Linked DNA regions of Homo sapiens. The protein of the gene in region 2 interacts with the protein of the main gene of each other region in a pairwise test. Each region holds a gene or a part of one and is shown on either strand. Other genes may lie near its edges.

What was found. The genes of interacting proteins can lie anywhere in the genome.
Region 1: the proteins of SYTL1 (region 2) and RAB27B interact in a two-hybrid assay, tested with the Homo sapiens proteins (one study listed by BioGRID).

What each region holds. Positions count from the first base shown.
Region 1 is NC_000018.10:54,887,468-54,894,494, reverse strand, and holds part of RAB27B (ras-related protein Rab-27B), read right to left. Parts: intron 6,501-7,027; coding exon 6,377-6,500; intron 5,272-6,376; coding exon 5,082-5,271; 3' UTR 1,504-5,081; coding exon of another isoform or gene 1,422-1,503; 3' UTR 1-1,421. UniProt on the Homo sapiens protein: Small GTPase which cycles between active GTP-bound and inactive GDP-bound states. In its active state, binds to a variety of effector proteins to regulate homeostasis of late endocytic pathway, including endosomal positioning, maturation and secretion.
Region 2 is NC_000001.11:27,345,013-27,352,039, reverse strand, and holds part of SYTL1 (synaptotagmin-like protein 1), read right to left. Parts: intron 6,744-7,027; coding exon of another isoform or gene 6,706-6,743; coding exon 6,515-6,705; intron 4,620-6,514; coding exon 4,471-4,619; intron 4,236-4,470; exon of another isoform or gene 4,233-4,235; coding exon 4,160-4,232; intron 4,074-4,159; coding exon 4,028-4,073; intron 2,961-4,027; coding exon 2,888-2,960; intron 2,643-2,887; coding exon 2,542-2,642; intron 2,389-2,541; coding exon 2,275-2,388; intron 2,069-2,274; coding exon 1,908-2,068; intron 1,652-1,907; coding exon 1,555-1,651; intron 1,247-1,554; coding exon 1,088-1,246; intron 783-1,087; coding exon 704-782; intron 585-703; coding exon 485-584; intron 1-484.

The DNA of each region.
Region 1 (7,027 bases), on a different chromosome or scaffold from region 2:
TTTTCTAGGAACAGAAACCATTTTGATATGCCAACAGACATAAAGACAGAAGCCACTGATTGAATAAGGGATCCATTAAGTTAAGGTCAGACATGCTTGCTCCTACAGAATTTGCTAATAATCCTTGTAGACAAAGTCAGCTGAAGGATGTTAGCCATTACTTCCACAACCAGCTGGAAAGGAACCAGGGAATCCACTTAATGAAAAGATGACTTCTTTGTATATTTTTTTCTCAAAAGATGACAAAATAGTTCCACTATTTTGGCACTAAAGTTTTTGTTTGTTTGTTAGTGGTATTCTCTCTCTACAGGAAATGAGAAAACATCTCAACCATAGGCTGTTGATACAAAGAACTCTGCAGGAAAGCATCTTTGTGATGGTACGCCTTGAAAAACTAATCAAGTGCTTTATGAAAATATCATAAATCTAATTTATGGAAAAATTAGATTTATATGCAATAAACAAAATGTCTCTAAGTGTATCACATTTTTATGCCAACAACGAAAGGTTTTTTGTTCAGATATTTTTACTAGTTTAGTTCTGAGGGCATAAACCTCTACTTGGTAGAAGAAAATGAACAAAAAAAAACTATCTGTTACTAGGTCTTTCTTTATTCGGACTCAAAATCGACCTTTGAAGTATGACCTTCTCCAGGTTCTGCTGTATTTAAGGGCACAATTTAAACAACTTTTAACTCTAATTATCTTTATAGTTCTGGCATGACAATGTCATTGTAGTTGGGTCTCCACCCAGAAATTCTAAGGCAATACATTTATAAAATTCTCTATATATCCAACCAAAATTTGTATCAGTTCTACTTTATGAGACAAGCAGCTTCATGGATTTATAAAGCATTGAAATGACACTCATCCCAGAGAATAGCCTATATCCATTTTCATGTATAAGAGCTCAACACCTTCCCCAGAAATAAGCTGACATCACCTTGGTCAAAGATCCAGAAGAAAATATAGCTCATGGTGAATTCTTAGACAACTTTTGCAAACGTAGGCAGCATCTTGGCATCTTAAAAAATGATAAAGCTTTCTCTAAAATATTCAAATACACTAGACTTCTTTTAATGTCTTAAAGCTTGGTAGTAGAGAGGAAAAAACAACTCTTCTATCACTTTGGCAAATATCAGCTCTTAGACCTTCTTTATAAACAGTTATTATGTATCTTAGGAAACCAGAGACTTGGAATATTATTTCTTTATTGTTGAGTTTTAGATTATACATCCAAAATCCTTTACGAATGAGGATTTTTCCCTCAAACGTTTGGTGTAATATGCAATGAGGAAAGAATTGTGTATCCTTTTTAAATGAAGAGAGATGCAGAACAATGAACAACCTGTTTCATGAACACAAGGTTATACACTATGATTAACTCACCACTGCACCAGTTGCACAATATTGCTTCTCTTTCTAACTGCTGCACTCACTCCACTGGTGAAGAGACAGACAGGCTTCATCAAATTTGTTGATTCCCAGTGTACTCAATTTGCAGCTTAAAGAACATCATATTGTGGCTATTAAATTATTTTTAATGTACTCATGTCCTTCTCTATGGCAAGCATCTCTTTCTTACAAAGGGGACAAGAAAAGGCTGATTAAAACTCTCGCCTGGTTCATCTACCTGTACAGGTTGGCAAAGAACAATTTATAGTAGAAGGATGACAAAGACACCTATCTGGTTAAAAGTAACAGATAAAATGTTTACTTTAGAAATAGCTAGTTTTGAATATTTTACAGGGCGATAGCTGATAATACGAAAATGATAGCAAATTGGATAAAGTGGTAACTGGCAAGAGTTTTAAAACTCTTATGGAGAGACCCACAGGCTCAACTCTTGGCGTTTAGTATTTTCTCTGCCAATCCTTGACTTCTTATCATTATCAGACCAAGACAAACATTATGTTCTCTGGATTATTTTAGATACATTTTTCAAATGATCTTTCTTTTTCTACCCTAAAAGGTAAGCTTGTACCTAATCACAGCTAAGAGTCTCAGGTAATGCCAACTTCATAAGAAGTAAGTGAGGAGACCAAGAGAAGGCAGTTAAACTCTCCAGATTCCAATAAAGTCCTTGCATCCCTTGCTGATAATATCAGAAGATCTTTAGCTGTGTTAGTGTCTCTGTGAGGGCTTCCTATGATATAACATTATAGGAAATGAGCTATGTGGTTGGAGACAAATTTGGTCACAGAGGTATCTGAGGCACCGAGTTAGAGCAATGTAAACATCAAACCAGTGTAAATACTCCAGAAATGGTTTCTATATCAGAAAGGAGCTTCATGTACATTTTCAACATTTCTCCTAAATACGTTTTACTAAAGCATTGGGAGATACTTAGTAACAGGACATATCTTGGCTAAAATTACATGCTGTTGTGGGGTAAATTAGGGGATTTGGAAATCTTTAAAGTAGTCTGTATACTTTATGGCACCAGAACAATTTGAAATTGTAAAATGAATTACACAGAACTACTAATCCTGAAATAATGAGAGAAGGAATTTCTAATAATGATTACATAGAATCTGGGGTCAGATGTCAAACTTTATGGAGAAAATTTTTTATATCAAGCATTTATTTATAAGTAGAACAATATTTTAAATCAATTTTGTCACTTCTCATTCCTCTTGAAGTTATTACCCAATAATTGTTATTTTTACAGGAATAGTCTTGCAATTATGGGCATCATCAACCTCTGCTTCATGCTACAGCTATCAAATAATGATCTTAAAACAGACCCTGAAAAAACACTCATTAAATAACTGACAGTGACAGAATCTTGGCATAAGTAAATCAATCATATAACTGAAAATGAATAGAAACAAAAAGACATATCAAAACAGAATACTTTTAGAGTTTTATAAAGGTTTCACATTCCCTATTAAGGAAATGCAGGGGACATTACAATTTGAATCCAAAGAAAAAATTGATATAATGACCCCAAAAGTTCACCAAAATTTGCCACAGCAGTGGCAATATAACTTGTTCCTGCTCACTTTCCTTCCAGAAGAAACATCTTAAATGTTAGCTTACAGTTTTCTATCTTCATGGCACAGGCATTGAGATAATGAAGAGCATCCCAGAGGAAACACCATGGGAGGGAATACCCAGCCACAACCCATCTTCGAACCTGTTGCGATGCTGCAGAAATCAGAGGAGCTGGCCAGTTAATGCTGAGAATTTCATCAGGGGCTAACAGCATGAAAGCTTTCAAATTATTAATATTTTGATTCATGGCACATTTATGGGTCTAGTCCATCCTAAGAACATTATAAAGAGACATTTCCTTGGATCTGTCTGTGTTTCTGAAACTGATTCAATACCAGATAGAAGTTCGCAGAGGTAAGCTGAATGATGGACTGGGATTTTTAGGGTCTTCAATGTGTATAACTTCACAAAAAATATGCACAGAGTATGGAAAAAGTAGGTTTGATTGGAAAAAATCTATACGACGAGGAAACAGCCTGTCAAAAAATCATATGCTCATAATAAAAAAAAACGAAAATATATTGTCTTTGTTATTTGGTAAAATTGACTGAAATAAATAATATTTTGATAGGAATGGCTTGTGTTTATCAGAAACTAAGATTAAAAATTAATGTAATGTTAGTTTAGACACAAGAACAGAATAGGCCAATGAAAAATAATTTTGTTACTATTTTTTAGAAAGAAAAGGAAGCTTTACATTAACAAAAATACTGGCCAGTTTTTTGTTGAGATAAGATCAGAAGTCCTTCCTCACCCAATCCCCCAAAATACAGCTCAACTATAGGTGTCTTGCCTTTGGCAAAATAAAATCATATTGTAATACAGAATGAGGTATTATCAATTTTTATGTGATTAATGACATGAAAATTCAGAGTGACCATAGAATTGATCCATAATTGTTCCAAAGTTATTGATCAACAAAGTAACACACCTGCATTTCTGCAATTGATTCAAAGTCAGGAATGGGTGAAATTTGGAGGGAAGAAATATGATTTAGTTTCCAGTACTTTTGTAAACTAAAAGGAAACCTGCAATAATTGCCACTTTTTGTTTCATATCACCATCTTATTTTATCTAAAAAAAATTCAAGGCTAGTTTTCCTTGACTGCATTTTAAAAGAGATTTAATAAACCGTAACTGGTAATTTCTCCTTGTGACTATTTTATCAACATGTGCTAAGAAAAAATGAAATGTGAAGCTGAACACCAAACCAATTTCTAAAATTTTGTTTGAAATGGAAACCTCTGGAGTTCTCTTAATTCCAACTGATAATATCAGCTCCTAATTGGCTTGAGTAAAATTTGGCTAAGTAACCCTTCCAGACATCTCTAACAGATACATTGAATTTCAGCTGTAGAAATGCCAATTTCTCATACTTTCATTTTTTTTCCCAGGGTATTTGTCTTGTACTTCATCATTTACAGTCCTGTTCTTGTCAAAGTGCTATTTATTAAGAATATAAAGACGGCATTATGACACTACCTCCTGCATTTTAACAGAAGTGTGACATTTACCTATTTGTAACCTTATCAGTAATTTATTCATTCTAGTACAGCTTATTGGGTGTACATAGTATATCATTCTTAATTAGCCAAATAGAATTCTTCATTGTGTATCCATTTTTAGCTAGTACATTTTCCCCAATGCAAATCTAAAAGTATGCATCTGACTCAATATAAGAAGTAAATCCAATATTTTAGAAATTCTTCTTTCTGTGTTCTCCCTTTAGTGCCTACCCTTTTCTTCAATGTGACAGGTAACTTGTTCTGATTTAAAACTCACTGATATTTCTTCTTGTATATTGTCTTATATACTCATTTTCTCTATAAGAAAAAACAAATTGAGTATCCATGATGATGAGATCACATTGGGAAATCTTTGATCATGTTTGAAAGGGCCTCAGGGATAACTAGTCAATTCTTTTGAACACTGTTGACTATTCTGGTTTCTTAAAATAGATTTTCTGGCAGAAAAAGAAAGACATGCCATTGTGCGTGGTTTACTCAACAACAATTGTGTGGTTTGTCATTGTTTTTAAAAGTAATATTTTGGTGGGGTTCTTGATGTTCAGTTTCTATGTAGAGTCTAGCAGATACATTTCTTCTCTGGTGGCTTTTCCCCATCCAAGTTTCCAGAATTTCCACCATTGACAGTATCAGGGATTTGTGTCTTCTCCACACACTGTTCCATTCGCTTCATGATTAAGTCCAAAAGGGTTTCTACAGCTTTCTCCACATTCTGTCCAGTTGCTGCACTTGTTTCAAAATATGGTATGCTAGCATAGAAAGGATGGCAAATATTTTTGAGAGGAAGAAATCAGAACAGATACAGCAAGATGTACAAGTGAATCACACATGCAAAAACGGCTGGCTGAGAGATTGTGAAATGATTATGGTTTTGCTGGCTAAGTTGGAAAGCATCCTTGTTTTTTCCTCAGTGAGTAAAAATTGGTGAGCTGCTCTTTAGTATGATTACAACCAGTTTTATGGGCAAGGAAATTGACACAAGAGGTAGTCAGGAAGTTGAAGCCAAGGCATTATCACTGTTTAAAAAAATTAGGAGGGGAAAAATACCCTCTGATCAATAAAACTACTGACCAATGTTACTATTAAAATATTGCTTCCCTTCCACTCAATTATCTGGAAATCTCCTTTAAAAAATAGGTATGCATTGAATAAGGATATTTGTGTGAATACAGTCAATGTTTATTTGGATTTAAAAGTTTCAAGAAAGACGTGTAAATTGTACAGCTTTTAGGGAGAATTCTTCCATAAAAAATTGGCAGATATGATAAAACTACTTTAAATTTAAAGAATAATGACAGATTCTGCCACGGAAGTCAATTTACAATTACATGGGGTGTTGTTTCTGTTTTTTTTTTTAAGCTGCCATTCAAGCTCAGCTGGGATAAAGACCACATTTTCATACCCTTGTCAGGGATTATTTCTTGGAGTTTTACATCTATTGATTGAGAGGCAGAAGAATACAGTGTTTAAGAGCATGAGCTTTGATATCAGACTGTCTGGATTGAGTTTAAGCTCTGCCTGTCACTAACTGTGTGGGGTGGCCTTCCATCAGTTACTTAATCTCTCTGTGACTCAATTCTTATATATAAAATGAGATAACTCTAGTTATGATGGGTTAAAATGAGTTAATGTCTAGGAACTGTTGCTAGCACATTATAGGTATACAGTAAATGTTAGGTGCTCTTATTATTAAGTAATTCATTAATACATCATATATATCTCTCTGAAAGATCTTTTTAATCCACATGCTGTTCTTGGTTAAGGGGATTTCTTCTAATATCAATCTAATGTCTCTGCTCCATTTGCTGAACAGCAGTGTGCAAGTCACATGCCATCTCAGTGTAACTGACTTACCCATATTTGTCAGCCAGTTCCCGAGCTTGCCGTTCATTGACTTCCCTCTGATCTGGTAGGTCTGCCTTGTTGCCAATTAATACTATATCTGGATTTTCACAATAAGCATTTGCTTGCAGTTGGCCTTGAAAAGAAAGCAGATGGAACCAGCAAGTTATTGATAAATAAGTGATGTCAAATGACTGCTCTTATTCCAGATTCCTGATCTAATTGCTTATCTCCAGTTTGGTTGCTTACTAGTTATATTGGCCAAGTTACTTCCTCTTCCCAGTCACAATGTGCTTATCTGTAAAACGGAGATAACACCTTACAAATTTCAGATTATGAAGGGGACTAATAATATATATGAAACACCTGTATCAATACCCAACATTTAGTAAATGTTAGGTGCTTTTATTATTAAGTAATTCATTAATACATCATATGTATTCCTTTGGAAGATCTTTTTAATCCATGCGCTGTTCTTGCTTAAGGAGATTTCTTCTAATAATATATATGAAGCACCTCTGTCAACACCAAACATTTAGTAAATGTTAGGTGCTTTTATTATTAAGTAATTCATTAAAACATCACATATATTCCTCTGGAAGATCTTTTCAATCCATGTGCTATTCTTGGTTAAGGGGATTTCTTCTAATAATACATAATACA
Region 2 (7,027 bases):
AGCCTGGGAACCCCCTCTGCAAAATACAGTGTTGCTCAGAAGTACAGTACCTCTGTACTGCAGCCTCTGGCTGCATCAGAGTGGACACCCAGAAGTGACCCGCCCACCTCCATTTCACTCTCTAACAGTGGGGGCAGCACCTGGAGGCACCCCTAGAAGTCCCCTAGAAGCTTACACTGAACTATAAGTTCCCAGCCAAGCCCCACAGCCTGGCCTCCCAGGTTCTCTATGGAAGGACCCTTGCAGCCCTCAGCCTCAGCTTTTCAACAAGTCCTATAGGCGCCAGTCACGCTGAAATGCAGCTCCTCAAAGGTGTCCTCAACTTCCCTGACTCCAGGCCTTTGCTCAAACCGTCCCCTTCACCCCTGCTCAGTGGTGAAAGCCCAGGCTGCGTGATCAAAGGTTGATTAGTAAGGGTTTGTGGAGGTTGGGCACTCCACTGCAGGCAAAAGAATGGGAAGCCCGGAGGGCCAGCACTCCTCACCATTGTACGTAAGTGTCCAGGGATCCTGCCCGCAGCGGCAGGAGGTCCCGAGCCTCCTTCACCCAGAAGTGCAGCTCCCCGCTCGGGGGCAGTCCTGCGCCTGCGGAGAGGCTCGGCTCAGGCCCGCACACGGATGGAGTCCACCGCCCCCAAACCCGGGGACTGGAGTCTCCCGCTTTTCAGGGCGTGTCCAGCTTGGCCTCTCCGGCTGTCACTCACCCTCGGAGCCGGCGGGGACGTACTTGAGGGACAGGGCGAGTAACCCGCGGCTCGGAAGGTCGTCGGGAGAGGGTGGGACCTGCGAGAGGCGGGCTTATCGTGGAGCAGGGGCTAATGGAAAGGGGCCTCAGGAGGGTGGGGTCTGCAGACCCGGATGGGGTGCGGCTAGAAGAGACGGCGGGGCCTGCAGGGGCAGAACCTAGGGGTCCTAGCGCCCTCGGGGAAGGGGCCGTGGCCGGCCGGGCTTCGCCTGGGGCCATGAGGTTAAGAGGTTGAGGGGAGGTTCTGTCGAAGGCGGGGTGTGAGGGGGCTGCGGGAGAGCCTGGTGGGGTAAATGCAGGAGACCCGGGCCGCAGGTCTCCCCACGCGGCCTGGCTGCCTCACCCGGGGCTGCAGGGGGAGCCAGGTGGGCTCAGAGCCCCAGTCCCACGTGTCCAGGGGCACTTCAACTTCGCCCAGAAAGATGTTGCGACCCAGGCTTTCGCGGTGCCACACAGACAGGCTCAGCACGCGGCCCTGAAGCTCGGCCTGCGGGACGGAGTACTGAGGACAGGAGGTGAGCTTTAGTGGAGCACTGCTGGTGGCCCGCGTAGATGCTGCGCGAGTTGGCTGAGGCAGGTCCTACCGCGTTCCTACCATGATGGAATTCTGGGGAGCCCCTAAGGGCATTAATGGGGACCTGCACTATCACCACGCCCACCACGAGGCTGACAACACTGGATAACGAGTTAATGGGCCCCCTCCGCCGATCCTCCGGGCAATGACGTTACTGGCTGCCCTTGCCACCTAGCCCCGCAGGAAGGGGGCGTCCAGTTCATTAACGGGGAACCGCATCGTGGTCACAGCCTCACCCGGAGAGTCTCGTTGAAAACCGGATTCAGATTCCGTTTCTTCACCGCCGTCTTGCGCTTGCTCTGCTTATCCGGGAGGAGGTAGCTTTTGACGTAGCTGGGGAGGTGAGAACCCGAGGTGAGGAGGGGCCCTCCCAGAGCCTTCTCCCCTGCCTGTGGGCTCCCCCAGCCACCATCCCGAACACGTGCCAGGCCTCGTGCTAAGCGCTTTACAGGGATTGTCTCGCTTAATCGCACGCCTCCCAATAACGCTGTTGTTCCCATTTTGAAGATGAGGACGAGGAGGCCGAGACCCTGTGAATGGTGGGCTGGGCTGTGACAGCCGCGCCCCGCTTGGCCGGCGGGGCACTCACGGGTCCGAGCGGCGGCGCCGGGCGGCGGCCAGGCCCTGGCACTGGATCACGTGCACGCGCAGCTCGGCGGCGCCCGGCTCGTAGTGCAGCGCGAAGTGCACGGAGCCGCGGACCTGCACCGCCTCCGCGTCGCCTGACAGGCTCATCTGGCTGCCGCTCAGCTGCGGACGGGAGTGGGTGGGAGTCAGGGCCGCTCGCAGGGCTCACGTCGGGGCCGCGGGCAGCGCGGAGGCTTCAGACCCGGGTCATAGGTGGCAGGCTGGGGGGCTGCAGCGGTGGGTCCCGCGGCGAGGGAGGGGCAGGCAGGGGCTACGCATCGGAACGGGTCCACCCCCCGGCCGCCCGGGTCCCCTCCCTCCCGCCTCACCGTGGAGGAGTTAAGGCTGGACACCGAGGAGCTGCTGCTGAGCATGCGGTCGAGAGAGGGGTCGGGCCCCGGGGCCTCCTCCCCATTCTCCAGGATCTGGGACGCGGCCTTGGTCTGCAGAGGGGGCAAGTGACGGGGCGCCCCTTCTTTCCCCACCCCTGCCCCGAGCGCCCTGGGTCGCGGGCGGCTCGCAGCCCTGGGCAGGAGCGCTCCCCGCCCGGAGTCCGCTCCGGATGTTGAGAGCAGCCACGGGCCACTCCCGCCTACCTGGGCTTGCTGGGGCCGCGGCTCCTGCTCTCCCCCCGACGCGGGCTCCAGCTCCGGGTCAGCCTCCTCGGCACAGACCTGTTGGTCTCCTTGGCCAGGATCTGGGGTGGGGCACGAGATGCTAAGCGAGCCCTCTCCTGCCCTCCCCTAAGCAAATTTGTAGGAACTGGTTTACAACCCCAGCGAGCTGCAGATTCAGGCCCCGGTGCTGCCCTGGGATCGTCCCCACCTCCGACGCGGGGTGGGAGTGGGGGTGACGAGGGTGAACACAGGTGGTTGGGGCCCCTTAGAGCTGCCTCTGACCCGCGAAACCTCTCCGTGCTCCCCAACAGGCGCTCCCACTCACCTTCCTGGGCCTGGGACGCCTCCTCAGGATCTGAAGCCTTTAGGGGGACAGAAGGCGATGGGAAATCAGGTCCCTGAAGGAAGAAAGGGGTAGAGGTCACAGTACGGGGGCTGGTGAGGAAGAGGTCAAAGGTCATATTGGGGTCAGAGGTCATAGGGCTCCAGCCAGCTACCCCAGTTTCAGGTTTAGGGCAGCCCTCCGGGCAGGGCTGGCAGCCAGCTGCAGGAGCGGTGAGACCAGTGCTTCACAGCCCACCCCGCAGGGCTTGTGCCGCCTGACTCCCTACTCCCATTGGTGGGGTCATTCGTACCTGAGTCCTCCACCTCTGCCAGGCCAGGCCAGTCCCATTCCTTTCTCACTCCTTTTTTTATTTTTATTTTTTATATTGACCCATTGGTAGACAACCTTTTTTCTTTTTTTAAATTTATTCTTATTATTTTTAATTGAGACAGAGTTTCACTCTTGTTGCCCAGGCTAGAGTGCAATGGTGTGATCTTGGCTCACTGCAACCTCCGCCTCCTGGGTTCAAGCGATTCTCCTGCCTCAGCCTCCCAGTAGCTGAGATTCCAGGTTATGCACCATCATGCCCAGCTAATTTTGTATTTTTAGTAGAGATGGGGTTTCTCCATGTTAGTCAGGCTGGTCTTGAGCTCCTGACCTCAGGTGATCTCGGCTTCCCAAAGTGCTGGGATTATAGGCGTGAGCTGCCACGACCGGCCTTTTTTTTTTATTTATTTTTTATAGACATGGGGGGCATTTTGCTATGTTGCCCAGGCTGGTCTTGAACTCCTCGGCTCAAGCGATCCTCCCACATCAGCCTCCCAAAATGCTGGGATTACAGGCATGAGCCACCGTGCCTGGCCCCACTTCACCCCTTAATAGCCAGATTCAGAAGTTCCCTTAGAGGCTGGGTCCATATACCACTCACTGTTCACCACCGTTCACCACTGTTTACCACCATTCACCACCGTTCCCCACCGTTCACCACTGTTCCACCCAGGAGGTGATGAGGTGCAGACACAGGAAGGAACATTTCCAGGGTCTCCCCATTCCCAGGCTGGGGCTCTTTCCCCCCTGCCCCCTGCACATTCCACCTCCCCTCCAGGGACACTGTACTCACATGTTGGCTCATTCACTTACCTCAGTCTCCCTGAGCCTCTCCTGAGGGGCCTCATCAATGGTGAGCCTAGGAGTAGGGAGAGGACGCTCTCAGAGGGAGGGACCCTGGTGACTGGTGGGCACCATCTCCCCCTTCCTGAGACTCCTCCTCACCTGGGCTCTGGCCCCTCTTCCTTCTCTTTCACAGCAGCCTCAGCCTCCCTGTCGTGGCCTGGAGCCTGGTCTCCTGGGCGCAGGTGAGAAGTTCTGTGAGCCCCCATGCTCAGGAAGCCTGGCTGTGACTCGGGAGAGGCCCTGGGAGATACCCACCCACCCCATGCCCACGGAGGGGCATTGCCCACTGAAAGACACACAGTACTGGGGGCAGCCAGGACTGGAGCCCTAGTGGTCCTCTCTCCCTGTCCACATACAGCCAGCGCCCTGGACGGCACATGGCTTGCCCTGCCCCGAGGATCTCCTCTCACCCCTGGTGCTCTTCTTCCTGCGCATAGACGCTCGGACAAGGTCAGAGCCGAAGTGGGCATTGTGGTGCCGCTGGGAGCGTGCTTCCTGGAACCAGTCCCCTGTCAGGATCTTCAGCTGCCCAGGGTCTGCCACTGAGGCCCGGAGCTTGCTGGAGGAAGGGGGAGGGTGTGGCTGTCATGACTCACCCAAGCAACATTCCCGCCACCTACATTGTTAACAGGCTTGGGACCAGGGGCCAGGGACCCAACAGCAAATCAGACTTGATCTGTGCTGTGGAGGAGCTCGGGCTGCTGGGGAGACCAAGTCCAGAAGAGACAAGTACACTGTAGTGAGGTGGATGATGTGATAGAAGTAAGAAGAGCCAGCTCTGCCTGTGAGAATCCAGGAGGGCTTCCCAGAGGAGGTGACATTTGAATTGCCTTTATTTATTTATTTACTTAATTATTTTGAGATGGAGTCTCCCTCTATGCCCAGGCTGGAGTGCTGTGGCGCAATCTCAGCTCACTGCAACCTTCACCTTCCAGGCTCAAGTGATCCTCCCACCTCAGCCTCCTGAGTAGCTGGGACTACAGGCGTGTGCCACCATGCCCAGCTAATTTTTTATATATTTTTTTGTAGAGACGGGGCTTTTCCATGTTGCCCAGGCTGGTCTCTAACTCCTGGACTCAAGCAATCCACCTGCCTCAGCCTCCCACAATGTTGTAAGTCACTGTGCCCAGCCTTGAATTTCTTCTTAAAAGACAAATTGGAACTCTCCAGGTAGAGAAGGATAATAATTATTATACTTTTAATTTTATTATTTTTTTTTGAGACAGGGTCTTGCTCTGTTGCCCGGGCTGGAGTGCAGTGGCATGATCATGGCTCATTGCAGCCTGACCTCCTGGGTTCAAGCAATCCTCTCACCTCAGCTGCCTAAATAGCTGGGACTACAGGCGCACACCACCACGCCAGGCTAATTTTTTATATTTTGTAGGAATGGGGTCTCACTGTGTTGTCCAGGCTGGTCTTGAATTCCTGGGCTCAAGCAATCCTCCCGTCTCAGCCTCTCAAAGTGCTAGGATTACAGGCGTTGCCACTATCTCTGGCCAATTCCTCTTAAATCAGTGAAGTAGGACTCCTTAGCCCCATTTTACAGACGACGAGCATGGTGCTCAAGGAGGTCAGGTGAGTTGCCAAGGCTACGTAGCTAGGAAGTGTCTGTCCCCAAACATTGCTTGTAACGCCCATGCTCTTCTACAACTGTGCTCTTCCAGGAAGAAGTACCAGCATAGGCATAGAAGTGAAGAGTGGGTTCAGGGACTGGGGAGCACCTGAGTGGCTGGAGGGGTCACTTTGTGTCTGTGTGTCGGGTCGGAGTTATGGTGAAAGAGGAGATGGTGGGGGCTGGCAAGGACCGACCAGGGAGGCCCAGTGGACCATGCCTAGGAGCTTGCCCTTGATACTGGGGAGCCAGGGGAAGTTTTCAGCGGGGATATTAAGGACGGATCTGGCCAGGCACGGTGGCTCGCGTCTGTAATCCCAGCACTTTGGGAGGCTGAGGCGGGTGGATCATCTGAGATCAGAGGTTCAAGACCAGCTTGGCCAACATGGCGAAAACCCATCTCTACTAAAAATACAAAAATTAGCTGGGCATGGTGGCATGTGCCTATAATCCCAGCTATTTGGGAGGCTGTGGCAGGAGAATCGCTTGAACCCGGAGGGGTGGAGGTTGCAGTGAGCCAAGATTGTGCCACTTCACTCCAGCCTGGGCGAAAAAATGAAACTCTGTCTCAAGAAAAAAAAAAAAAAGCAGACAGATCTGGGGAGCACCAGCTGCAGGAGGTGGGCCCAAGAGGCAAGCCTGGAGGCAGGGAGGCTGGCGAGAAAGCTGGTGCAGTCACCCCTGGAGAAGTGATGAGCTGTGAGCTGGCCAAGGCCAGAGGAGACTGAAGGGCAAAACCAAGAACCACGCAGACATCTGACAGGCAGTGGTGTCGGTAGGGAGCAGGATGGGGGCCACTCAAGCCTCTTGGTGCTCCCCGGCCAGGGTCTGCCCTGCCTTACCTGACCCGCCCCTCCTCCAGCTGGCGCAGGCGGGCATCTCGTTGGAGGACGCCAGCAATGGCCTCCTGCTCCTCCTCTGTCAGGAAGCTGAGGTCCAACAGTCCTTCAGTCTCAGGCTTTGGCCCATGCGCCATGGGGAGGGAGGGCAGAGCCCAAAGCCCCTCTTGCGATGGGTGGCCCCTCTGGGGCATCAGCTGGGGCTGTGCCCCAGCTGGGCACACGGAGCTTCCTGGGGGCAGACCGAGGGTCAGGTCAAGCCCTGCACAAATGCTTGGCACATCCTAGAACCAACAGCCCTTTTCTCCCCAAACACTTGGCCGGGTATGGGTAGGGTGCCACCCCAGGATGGCTGAGCTCAAGGTGGGGTGAGAGACACTCATGCACACATGCATACACTAGCCCTTGAACACACTTGGAGACACAGTGGAAGAAGCAAGAGACACACATGCACACACCCTGAGGTAGGGCCACACAGGACTGCAGCGATGGAACACACAGACACATGTGCACACG